Linked DNA regions of Homo sapiens. The protein of the gene in region 2 interacts with the protein of the main gene of each other region in a pairwise test. Each region holds a gene or a part of one and is shown on either strand. Other genes may lie near its edges. The genes, in order: NKD1 and PPP2R3A.

Region 1 (7,294 bases), on a different chromosome or scaffold from region 2:
GAGGAACCGTCCCCAGGCTGGGGAGAGCCGACAGGACTCTCTGCTAGGGTATGGAGGGGATGGGTAGAGTGGAAAAGGTCTCAGTAACTGGAGTGATGAGGGAAAGAGGAGTCAAGGATGGCACCCAAGCTTCTGGTCTGGGTTACTTGTTGGATTGTCTTGCCATCTGCTGAGCTAGGAGCAGGTTTTGGGGTAAGATGATGAGTTTGTTTTGAGGCATGTAGTTGGGACTCGTTGGCAGCAACCTAGAGACAGTCATGGCAGTGGACGAGATCCCAAGAAGTGAGTCCACGGAGAAGGCCAGGCAGCCAGCACTGAGATCTGAGCAACGCCACTATTTTTAAAATTTTTTTATTTTGAAATAATTATAAATTATCAGAAAGTTGCAAACAAAGCCCAGTCAGGTCCCATGTACCAGTTTCACTGCCACCATCTTTAAAGGAGGATTAGACGAATCTGACTGCTAAAAGTGGCCCAGGGATTCTGGAGAAAATCCAACAGGTTTGCTATCAGGAAAGCAATTTCACTTACAATTCAGGTTTGACTGCAAGTGAAAGTGGTTGAAACAAGTGAGAAGTTGATTGCTTCCTCATATAATAGTCTAAATGTAGGTGTCCAAGCCTGGAATAGAGGTCCTGGTCCTCTAAGTTCTCAGGAACACAGGCTTCTTTTAGCCACTCCACATCTCTAGGGTGTTGTCCTCATGGTCCAAAATGGTGACTGGAATTCCAGCCATCACATCTGCTTTCCAGGCAGCAAAATGGAAGAAGGGGCACAGAAGAACAGAGATGACAATAGGTATAAACAAGCTCTCTTTTTAAAGGAGATTCCCAGGAGCTGCTACATGACACTTACTGTTGACTAGAGTTTAGTCACAAAATTTATTTGCGAAGGAGTCTGAGAACTGTAGTCTTTATTCTTGGGCTCAAAATCAGAGGCTGTATTACAAGGAAGAAAGAGTGTATTCAGGGGAGCAACTAGCTTCCTGTGCACAGAATCCAAGGGCAGAGGGTGTTCTGAAAGGGGGGATGTGTCAGTATCACAAAAACAATCAAGAAGTCAAGAAAGGTAGCAATGAAATGCCCAGTGGATTTAGGGGCAAGAAAGTCCAGTGGCAACTTGGTGAGGATGATGGCAATTATCCATCTGACCCCAGAACCCTTGATTCTGAGTGCCTAATGTTTTCCAGAGTCAGCTTTTGTCTAGTGGATGGGGCAGAAAGACAGAGGTGTTGGAGTTGAGGGTGTTGGACCAAGAGTGCAAATCCAGGCCACAGGTGACAGTACAGCGGCAGGAAGTGGAAATGAGGGAATGAAAGGGACTCTAGGAAGAGCCAAGAGGGACTGACTGTGAGAAGGACAGGAATGAGGACAGAAGGAGACAGCAGAGTGTGTGGCTTCCATGGTGTGGCATTTCTGGGTTCACAGTGGGGCCCAGGAGTGAGTGGCTATAGAAGAGAGAAAAGGAGGCCTTCCTGGTGGTGGGGGCCATAACACTGAGAGATCGGGGTTCAGACACCTGCGGAAATCACCCAGGTTGCTGGCAGGGTGTCAGGTAGAGGTGGACGCTGAGCCTCTGTGGAGTTTTCCCAGTTACTTCAACACCACTCCCAACTTTGCTGCCAAAAGAGCCTGTTTAATGTTCTTGTGGTTGACACCTGCCCCAAACCCTGAATGGTTCCCCCATGGATTCTCAGGAAATGTCCAAACCCCTCACCTTTTCCTTTGAGGTCCTTCTATGATCACCTGGGATGGGTTATGATGCTTTCAACTCTAAGCAACAGGAACCCCAAGTAACAGACACTGCCTGTGCCTGGCTTGTATCCCCTGTAGGAATCATTTCTGTTTGCTGGTCCAATTTCCGACTGCCAGTACCTGCAATTCTGCTGAAGCCTATGCCTATGCACAGAAATAGCCCTTGACCAATGACTGACAAGGATGGGTGGGTAAATACCTCAGCTCCCTCCCTGTGCAGGTGGGATAACTCTGAGGTATGTTCCACGTGGGCTCCTGGAGTGGAACTTCCCTTCCTTTTCTGCCTCACTTCCCCACTCTCCTCCCTGTCTTTCCCAGGACCACCTCAAAATCAACAACCTGCTCCTGAGTCTTCATCTCAGGATCTCCTCCTGAGAAAAACCAAATAACTAAAGTACAGATGCTGGGTGGCTGCCAGGTCATGTATAAGTGCTTGCTCAACATCATTCCCAAGGACCCAGCACTCTCTGTGTGTGCTCTGTGGTCCTCAGGCTGTAGCAAGATGGCCACTACCATGACATGTTACAAGTTCCTCAACAGACTTCCCTTCAGATCTCATTGCCCAGAATAAGGTCACACATGATCTTTCCTGAATCAGTCACTGGCAAAGGTGAGGACTTTGCCATGTCTGGCTTAGACGAATCACCTATGGACAGAAAGGATGATGGGGTCAACTACAGAGACCACACCACCATCCCATCATGTCTTCTAGTATGACTCTACCACTGTAGATATGTAATATAGTGAAAAGAAAGAGCTGGTTGATGCTGCTTGCCAACCAGCTGTGTGTTCTCACGATCTCACATTCATTCATTCATTCATTCAACATGCACATATTGAATGTTGACTGTGTCCCTGCTAGTTACTGGGGCTGGGGATGTGGGAGACAAGAAAAGCACAGAGGGCTGAATGTGGTGGGGTCTGGGTGGCAGAGGCATGACCCTGGGGATATCCTGACCCAGCTGTTTTGCCATCTGAAATGTCCCACCCCACTGTCTTCCCTTCAGGATCATACCTGCCCCCTAGAGCCCCTCTCCTCCAGGAGGCCTTTTCTGATTTTCCCAAACCAGGGGGTCCCATCCTGCCTTGGAGCCCCCTTGGGTGTTCCAGGGTGTTGTTCTGGGCTGACACTGCCTTGGCTGGCTCTGAAGTGTCCTTTCATGCCCATTACGAGTGACAGTGTTCTTGTTTTCCCCATTAAGGCTCCTAGAGGGAGGGCACTGTGTCCCCAGGGCCTGAGCCACAGCCAGGCAGCTCAACCCTGCAGGGCTGACCCACAGCCTGGGTGGACCCGCCCGGCCCCAGTCCCTGCCTCCCAGCACCTGCCACAAGGCCGCCTCCTCCCCACGCCATGTCTCCCATCAATTTCTTCTTTCATAAAAATCAATTTCTGTCCCGTTTTTGCCATGTACATAAAAGACTGTGGCATCAGTTAGCCTTCGTTCTCTCTCCCCCCCCCCTCTTTTTCTTCCTCGTCTTTTTTGGAAACCTCTTTGTAGGGAAAATCTCATATTTCAGCAATTTGCATTATCCACACACTCAGCTTTGAAGTTCTAAGTTATGGTAAGAAAAGGACCCACTTATCTGCCCATAAAAAATGTTCAAAGCTTATAAATTCCCTGAAACAGATGTACATTATCATTGGATTTGCCTTTCTTTTTGCTAGAGCATGCCTAATAGAGTTTCGGCCGCCCCCTGGCCCCCTTCCCCCGCCCCCGTTAGCATCTTGTCTCCACAGAAGCCCGCTCCCCACTGGGCCAGACCGACTTCAAAGGTCCCAGGCTGTCTGTTAGAAGCAAAGCACAAAGTGGGAACATAGGGGCCTTTTAAATCCCCCACGTTTAAGTCAATATCATGCCTCCCTCCTTTCCCCTCTCCTGGCAGAGGGACATAAGTCAGCCCTTCCCTTTCTGCCTTCACGAGAGCCAATTCAGCAACTACCAGAGAGAGGAAATTGGGGCCTCTTTCTCTCCCAGTCTCTCTGTCTTTGCCCTTTCTTTCTTGCCAACTTTTCTTTTTGTTCTTTCCCTCGCTTAAGAAGATGTTCGGCAGCACGGAAGGTAGTGCTGATCCCACATGTAAGCAAGCAAGCGGATCCTTGAGCGCTTTCATGGGTAAGAACGTCATAAACAACGTGCATCCATTCGGTTGCCGTGGGATCCTACCAAGAGAGCCTCCTCTCCGGGCTACTGTTTCCAATCCCTTCTCTGCGTGGTGGTGGCTAGAGTGTCACATCCTCTCTCTCCCGACTGACCACCTAGCTTCCTGATGTGTCTCTTGGGGTGACAAGCAGACTCTCCACCATTCAGGCCCCCAGATTCTGCCCATACCGGGCCTCCTCGTTGCCAGCTGTACCCGGCCATACAGGCCTGCACCAGTTCATCAAGCGTTCACCCTCCATCCACCCTTGAGGCCCTTGTACCAGCTGCTCCCTCTAACTTTCCACCTGGCTAATTCTTCCTCACCCTTGAGGTCACCCCCTAAATGTGGCTTCCTGGAGAGTCCCTCTGCAGTCCCCCATCTCCATCATGTCCCCTCTGTTATTCCCTCCCATGTCTCCCCAGAAGTTATCGCAGTGGATAAAAATGTCGTTTCTGGGTGGAAGCAGTCCCCCCGTCCCCCACACTAGATTAAAGCTCCACAAAGGTAGGTAGAGATGATGTCTGTTTTATCGAGTGCTGAGCATGGTTCCTGACACATAGTACTTGATCACTAAATCTTTGAAAGTACGGATGAACAGAAAGCCTGGAGATGACGGTGGTAAAGGCCAGCCAGGCCTGAGCAGGTCCTTTCTGGGCAGGAAGTGCCAAGTGTGGGTCTCTCTTTGCTCTGCCCACGTCTTGCCCAGAAGCTCAGTTTTGGCAGCTCCTTGCCACTGGGGGGTGGTCACACCACAGAGACTGGCCTGCAGTCTAACTAAACTGCTTAGCAAGACGGGGTGAGATACTCGAATGCCAAATTCTTTCTCCCCAGTGAAGAAAGGAGGGAGGAGGGAAGGAAGGGAAGGCGGGAAGTTCACATGCACCACACTGGAAATATTCTGGCCAGGAATTTCTGGACCAAATCACAATCAGATGCTGCCTTTTGAGGACAGAGTCAGAGGAAACAGAATCAGGTGATGTTGGCTAAGATGGCCAGGGGCCCATCTGGAGAGGATCTGGCCAGGGGACTTGAGCCACTCAGAGTCACCCTGGGCCCCAGTACCTAGATGTGCTGAGAGCCCACAGGCCGAGCCCAGTGACACCATCTGAATATCCCCAGGAGGTTCTGGGTTTCCAGTCTGTCTGCATGCTGTCACCCTTCTCTGGGGGCAGCATCAACATTCCAACAACTCTCAGCATCAGGAACCCGCAAGAGGGGTGCCCCTTTTCCCATCTGTCTTTATGAATTCTATCAACAAAGACACATGGAGTGTCAACAGCAGGCCATGTGCTAGGTCCCGCTGGGGGCGGGTGGGGAGGCCAGGAATGTGTTGTCCTTCAGTCGCTCAACAGACATTGAACAAGCACCTGTCTTTGCTGGGCCTTTGGGATTATAAGATAATCTGGTGAACAAGTGCTTTGGTGGAAACCAAATAATTAGAGGCATAGATAAGTACATACGGTGGATCCTCACCCTCCGTGGATTCTGTATTTACGAAATTGCCTATTCACTAAAATTTGTCTATCACCCAAAATCAATACTCATGGTGCATTCACTTCATTCGTGATATGCGCAGAGCAGTGAAAAGTCTGAGTGGCCCGACAACATGTTCTCAACTGAGGTCGAACAAGATGATGCTCTGCTTTCGTGGTTCAGTTCTCATCCTATACACAAACATCCTTCTCACAGTCTGTTTAGCATCATGCTTTGTGCATGTTTGTGCTTTGTGTTGGTGATTTGGCTGCTTAAAATGCTCCCCAGGCATGACGCTGAAGTGCCATCTTGTGCTCTTAAGCACAGAAGGCTCTGATATGCCTTGCAGAGAAAATATGTGTGCTAGATAAGCTTCATTCAGTCATGAGTTATAGAGCTGTTGGCTGAGTTCAATGTTAACGAATCAAGAATATATAGTAAATTAGGCATCTTTAAACAGAAGCACACATAAAACAAGGTTATGCACTGATTGGTAATGAAAATGTTGTGACCAGAAGCTGGCAGGAACCTAACCCTGTATTTCCCCTAGGATCAGTAGTTCAGTATGCGCTAACTCAGTGTCAGAGGTGACTTTATAAGATGTAACTACTGCGATGAGTGAGAATCAACTACAGTTACAAACATGATCAATGTTATGAATGAAGGGGACCACAGGGCACCCTGAGAGCTTGGGGCACCATCTTGCTGAGGCTGAGGTCTCGGCCACACCAGCAGCCCCAGCTCCCCTTGCCTCACGTGTCCCTGGACTTGGCTGGAGTAATGGCAGACAACGGAGTAGGACTGGTCTTTGTCAACCTGTATCAATGCCAGCAGGCTCCTGGAAAGGGAGGGTCATGTGGCTAGCATATGTCAGGCTTATGTTTAATCCTACCATGCATTAGCCACAAGTTAGGTAAGTTGCTTAACTGAACTGTAACTCTGTTTCCTCGTTGGTTTCCTCTCAAGGCTGTTTTGAGGACACTAGTGAATGTGGGCTGGGTGCACAGTAGGCACTCTGTAAGTGGCAGATATGGCAATGTGGACTCCTCAGCGATCCTGCAGCTTAGGAGTTGGGCAAGGACAGACCCAGATGTAGGGTAGCGAAGCATTGCTCCAGAGGCCACCTCTTTCCCCAAGGAAGGCACTGCTGGCATGGCTTTCAGGCTGCCCATCCCCACCACTACCCCTACTGTTTGTAGGACTTAGAGCTGCCACCCCCATAGTCTAGCTTCAAGCCAAGGGCAGTTTCATAATACAAATATGGTACTGAAGGCCAGAGACAGCAGGGGCTTGTCCAAGTTCACACCACAAGTCGGGTCTGGAAGGAACAGAGTGATCCCATCAAACTTGAGAGGGAAAAGTCATGTCCTCAAGTGTTTTTTGAGTGTGTAGCAGAGGCAGCATGCCACAGCAGCTGTCTCACTGGGGGCTCTGCAGCCGGGGTGGAGGACAGGTACCCTTCATCCATCAGGACTGCACCTCCTTTCCCATGAGCCTTCTGGGGTCACATTCTCCTAACTGCAGCTACTGTTGCTGTTTTACTTATCGAGGGCCTATTACGTGCCAGGCTCTGCGCTGAACGCTTCACGCCCACTGGATCATTTACTCATAACAGCTCAGTAAGGTAGTTACCCCAATTAGCCCCATGTTAGAGAAAAACACCAAGGCACAGAGGTGAGTCACTTGTCCCAGGTCACACATCTAGGAAGTAGTAGAACCAGGACTCAGCTCAGGTCCAAAGTCTCAACCATGGGCCAGTCTGCTCATCTTAGCCAAACCCCCAGGCTGCATTCTGTGGTCCAGCTACTGGATCCTGCAACCTTCTCAGACTCTATCCATGAAGCCAAGTGCACAGGATCTAGGACATCAGGTCCAGAGAATTTGGGGCCACATCTTCCTGGACCTGCAGATGGGCAAGGACCAGA
Region 2 (4,961 bases):
AGACACATCCTGAATTGTTGAGTCCTTGTTATTAATATAAATGATCAAATGATCTTTTACCTTAGGTAATAGTTTTAGAGCTGACAATTTTATCTTTTTGGTTAGCCTTATTAAGTCTGCATTTCCGGGAGGAGGTGTAGTATGGTCCTAGGGATAAAGAATTCCTTTTATTTCATTGTATTCTTAGTTAAAACAATTTATTGGTGACCTTGTTGAAGAAGAGTAAAAGTTTTATGGGAATCAGATGAAAAATAAATTGTCCATAACCATATCATAGATAAAAAACAGAAATGCTTTAGAAAATACTAAGTTCAAAGTATGGTATTTTATACTTTTCTCTTTTTAAAAAAATTAAAAGCTAGGCACAGTGGTGTGTGCCTGTAATCTCAGCTACTTAGGAGGCTGAGGTGGGAGGATCACTTAAGCTCAGGAGTTCGAACTCAGCCTGGGCAACATAGACCTTGCCTCTGAAATAAAATTTAGGTACCCCAAAACATGCCGTTACACATTCTTTTAAAATAATGCATTATAGATGAGGCTAAAGTCTACCTTGATTCCTGTGAACTCCGCCTCATTCACAAACCCTGGTCCTCTTCCCTATCCCCTGAAGAAATCATTTCTCAGTATATTGTCATTACTACAAAGACCTTTCTTTGTAGTTTTCACATGGGCTCAAAGAGTTATTCTCTGACATTCAAGCTTGTTTACAGTGTTACTCTTGCAGACAAAAAAATGAGGTGCAAATATGATTAAAAGCACAAGTGTGTAGTAATTACCTTAATGAACATGATTCATATTTGACAACTTTATTTAGTTTTGCTAAAAGGGAAAAACAAAGTCATGCAGCCTTCTCCAAACACATCTTAACATTTCAAAAAGCTGAGCAAATCTCATTTGATGAATCTAGAGTTTTATAAACACTTTGAATGGTACACAGTGACAAGATGCAGGGAAGATATATGGAATTTTATTAGTTTGATTACCTTGGTAATGTTATGCTATTAAACTCATTTCTCATTGAATTAGCATTAAGGTCATGATAACCCTCAGCTTTTATCAAGGGGCCTGGGATATTATAATAACTTGAAAATTCCAGTTTGGCAGTAATGATTATACTTAACCATGATCTTTACCAGAAAGTCAAATATATTCTACCTTAATTCCTCAGAATTCACATTCCTTGCATTCAGCTCCAAGGAAGGAGTACAATAAAACACATTCTTATAATTCCTGAAAATGTGATAATGTGGGTAAATTACAATAGCCCATTTTAAATGGAATGGTATTGATGGATGTACTTTTATAATAGAGACTTTGTAAGAGAATGGGGTCTTGCTCTGTCGCCTAGGCTGGAGTGCAGTGTCGTAATCATAGCTCACTGCAGCCTCGAAGCCTGGGGCTCAAGCGATTCTCCTGCCTCAGCCTCCCAAGTTGGTAGGACTACAGATGTGCACCACCATGCCCAGCTAAATTTATTTTTTGTAGAGACGGAGTCTCACTATGTTGCCCAGGCTGGTCTTTACTCCTGGGCTCAAGTGATCACCTCCCTTGGCCTCCCAAAGTGCCGGGATTACAGGCATGAGTCACCATGCCCAGCCAATAATTAAGAGACTTCAAAAACCAGATCAAAGTGAAAGCAAGAGGACTTCAGTAAGGAGAACCAAGGTAAAAAGGTAAAGCCAAATAGTTAAAAAAAAAAATGTATATTGTAAAATTGAATTTTTACTTTTTGGTGAATCTTATTAGTTTAGATCATTATGGATAATAAAACATTTAAACCATATCTGGCTTCTAAGAAAAGTATTTTTTTTTTTTTTGTATTTCTATCTGAAATGAAATAATTGCTTTTCTTCCCTGGTAAAGGCTGGATGGATTGGTAGGAGATTTCATTTATCACATAAATAATCTTAATCTTAATAATTTATCAGTGTGTTTAGATTTTGAATATTGTGTTTCCTAAAAATTATTTTTAAGCTTTTAATTCTTTTGTGTGAACTATTAGATAGTTGCAATAGTTACTGCTTTCTGTAATAGTTAAATGGAAGATCAGTTCTAATCATGAAGATAAAATGACAGGGAACTGGGAGCTTGTGACAGGCAGGATTCCTAGGATTGTTAACTCTCACTGTACTGTACCTTGTTTATAGCATATTTATTTCCTAAATTCTCCTTTTCTTTTTGCCTACCATAACTCTAACCCAAGGTTCATTTCACTGCTTGGCCTTTATGCCAGCAAGGAGGGAACCTAGGTAGGGTGGAAAGGGAAGCTATTCTTGACACTTTCAGAACTAGTTAAAAAAAAAATCTAGGGGAAAAGTTGATGACTGACAGATGGATATTAAGTTGCTTGGGGGTTTTACTTACATCAGAAATGTCTATCCTTTTTAATAGTTTCTTTTCAAGGATATTATAGGATTTGGCTGGACTGTGGCCTGCTGAAAAATGTAGGATTCTGTAGTGAATACATCTACAACTACAGTAAATAACAGCTTTCTTTTATAGCTGTATCATTTTCCATTTCCTTGATAAATACTGAGGTGGATGAAATATCTGTAGTAATTGTTTTCAACATGAAGTAAAGAATAACGTTGAGGCCTTTACTATTAGCTAGTCTAATACTCCTGGGAGGAAGGAATATATCTATCTAGTAAGAATTTTAATGTATCATTATTCCTTTATGTCTTCAAGCAGGCCTTCTGATAGGAAGTGAAAACAGTTATCAACTAATTTGGATATTAAATACATCATTCAATAGTTCAATGAATAAAAGATAAAAGTTAAAAGGGCTTTTTCCAAGTATGAGTCAAATTCTATACTTCATTTAAGAAGTGTTTTTTTATCTTGAGATTTTATATAAGATCCACAGTCAGGGAGGTTACCAGAGCTTGCCAGCAAAGTTGGAAGGCCCAGTGGTTACAATACCTGAGGATGTAAAGTGACTAGTAGTTTGGCAGGTAACTGTGAAATTACATTAAGCCAGGTAAGTTAAAGATCTTTGAACTCCAGTATACATAAAAGAAGTCTCTGAGATGTTTTGGCAGTGCTTTTATTACTAGGGCTAAGTCAATTCTGGAGGCCCTTACTACTTTTTCAAGTTCCAGAATTTTCTGACTCAAGTTTTCTGCAAGTGAAGGTTTCTTCTAGGCTCCATAGGAGCCCGGAGGGGACTCAGGGATGCCAGCCAACACAGAGGCAACTTCAGTCACCTGTGTAGAGAACCGTGCTTGGTACTGTCGCCAAGAGATCCTTGGTACATTCAAGAGTGTAGAGTGCTGACTTTGGAAGGCGATGGTACCACTTCTGAGGAGAAGCTCCGTAAGAGGTTTGAGGCAAATTGGAGGAGCCTCCTAAGTTAAATGTGTATCCAGACCTATTGCTTAAAAACAAAGTTCCTAGTGCAGATGATACACACTTGGAGAAATCAAAGTCTTTAAAAAGCAGTATGCAAACGAGAACATCTCTTCACAAGAAAGAAACATTTAAAATACACATCTTCGTTTCATTGTAGACACCGGCAGCTATTCTTCATCCACTGATTGAAGCTTTCCACATTTCTCTGGAAGGCTTGCACTTAATATTTTATTGCTTTTGTTTCCAAATTCAGAGGGAGAGGCAGGTTCATCTGTTTCATAATCTTCAAAGCTGAAATAACAAAGCAAAAGTGAATTAACTGATTGATTGATTAAAGTTTGGGTAGAAATCAATATGGCAAATCCGAGCCTCAAGACCAGCCCACAAAGGTACCTTGAATTGCTAAATGGAGGCCGTGAGCAACTCAACTGCCGTGAAGGAGGCAACACTCTAGAGCAGAAAACACATTCTTCTCCCTGTTCCTTAAAGCTTAAGTCCATGTCAGAATTTGTTGAAAATGTTCCGTATCAAGCTTTCCCTAGGGTGGTTGGTGGGAGTGAGAGAATTACAGATGGTGCTAGGTAAAGAAAAATTTGAGGTCCATGAAGTATGAGCATTACTTGACCTTATTAAAAGTGGTTTCCACTCAGAGTGGCAAACCTTTTTTTTTTTTGAGACGGAGCCTTGCTCTGTCACCCAGTCTGGAGTGAAGTGGCACGATCTTGGCTCACTGCAACCTCTGCCTCCCAGGTTCAGGCGATTCTCCTGCCTCAGCCTCCTCAGTAGCTGGGACTACATGCATGCGCCACCACACCTGGCTAAGTTTTGTATTTTTAGTAGAGATGGGGTTTCACCATGTTGGCCAGGCTGGTCTGGAACTCCTGACCTCAGGTGATCTGCCCACTTTGGCCTCTCAAAGTGCTGGGATTACAGGCTTGAGCCACTGGTCGGCCAGAGTGGCAAACTTTCTCAACTCTCAGATTGCTTTATAGCTTCCCTCCGTGGCTTCCAAGCAACACAAAAAGATGTTCAAGTATGTAGGTTGAACTGACTAAAGTGCATTTATGGATTTCCCATCATTCTACTTTTTAGGTCTCTATAGCATACCTGGACCTGGATACTCATCCTGGGAAGATGTCCTTCTGCTAAACCTTTTAGGTGTTGCTGGTATCCCCTGAATTCTGTATCCTCCAGGCTACCCCTAAGGTTGGCTTTAGGCAGAGATGAAATATTTTCTCTTGGAAATGATGTGGCTGCCTGAAATATTGATAAATATTCTGAGGCTATATCTCTGAGCCTCATATGTAGATATGTACATCAGAAAAATGTACATCAGCAATGTCTATTATAGTATTTGACATCACTGGCTTAGCCCTTGCAGGGATCTCCCACAATATTTAAGCAGGAATTTGTGGACATACAGTCCCTTCATCAAAAAGGTACCAATTGGGGCCAATTAGTGAGGGAAAATATGCTGAGGTAGGTATATACAGTAAGTGGCACCTATTCAAGTTCCTAAAACATTGTGTGTGTTTTTTCTTTTGAGATGGAGTCTCGCTGTGTCGCCCAGGCTGGAGTACAGTGGGGCCATCTTGGCTCATTGCAACCTC

Evidence for each region.
Region 1: the proteins of PPP2R3A (region 2) and NKD1 interact in binary tests that used the Homo sapiens proteins (3 or more experiments, as listed by UniProt).

What each region holds. Positions count from the first base shown.
Region 1 is NC_000016.10:50,642,291-50,649,584, reverse strand, and holds the end of NKD1 (protein naked cuticle homolog 1), read right to left. Parts: 3' UTR 336-7,294; downstream 1-335. UniProt on the Homo sapiens protein: Cell autonomous antagonist of the canonical Wnt signaling pathway. May activate a second Wnt signaling pathway that controls planar cell polarity.
Region 2 is NC_000003.12:136,143,724-136,148,684, reverse strand, and holds the end of PPP2R3A (serine/threonine-protein phosphatase 2A regulatory subunit B'' subunit alpha), read right to left. Parts: intron 3,643-4,961; coding exon 3,519-3,642; 3' UTR 791-3,518; downstream 1-790. UniProt on the Homo sapiens protein: The B regulatory subunit might modulate substrate selectivity and catalytic activity, and might also direct the localization of the catalytic enzyme to a particular subcellular compartment.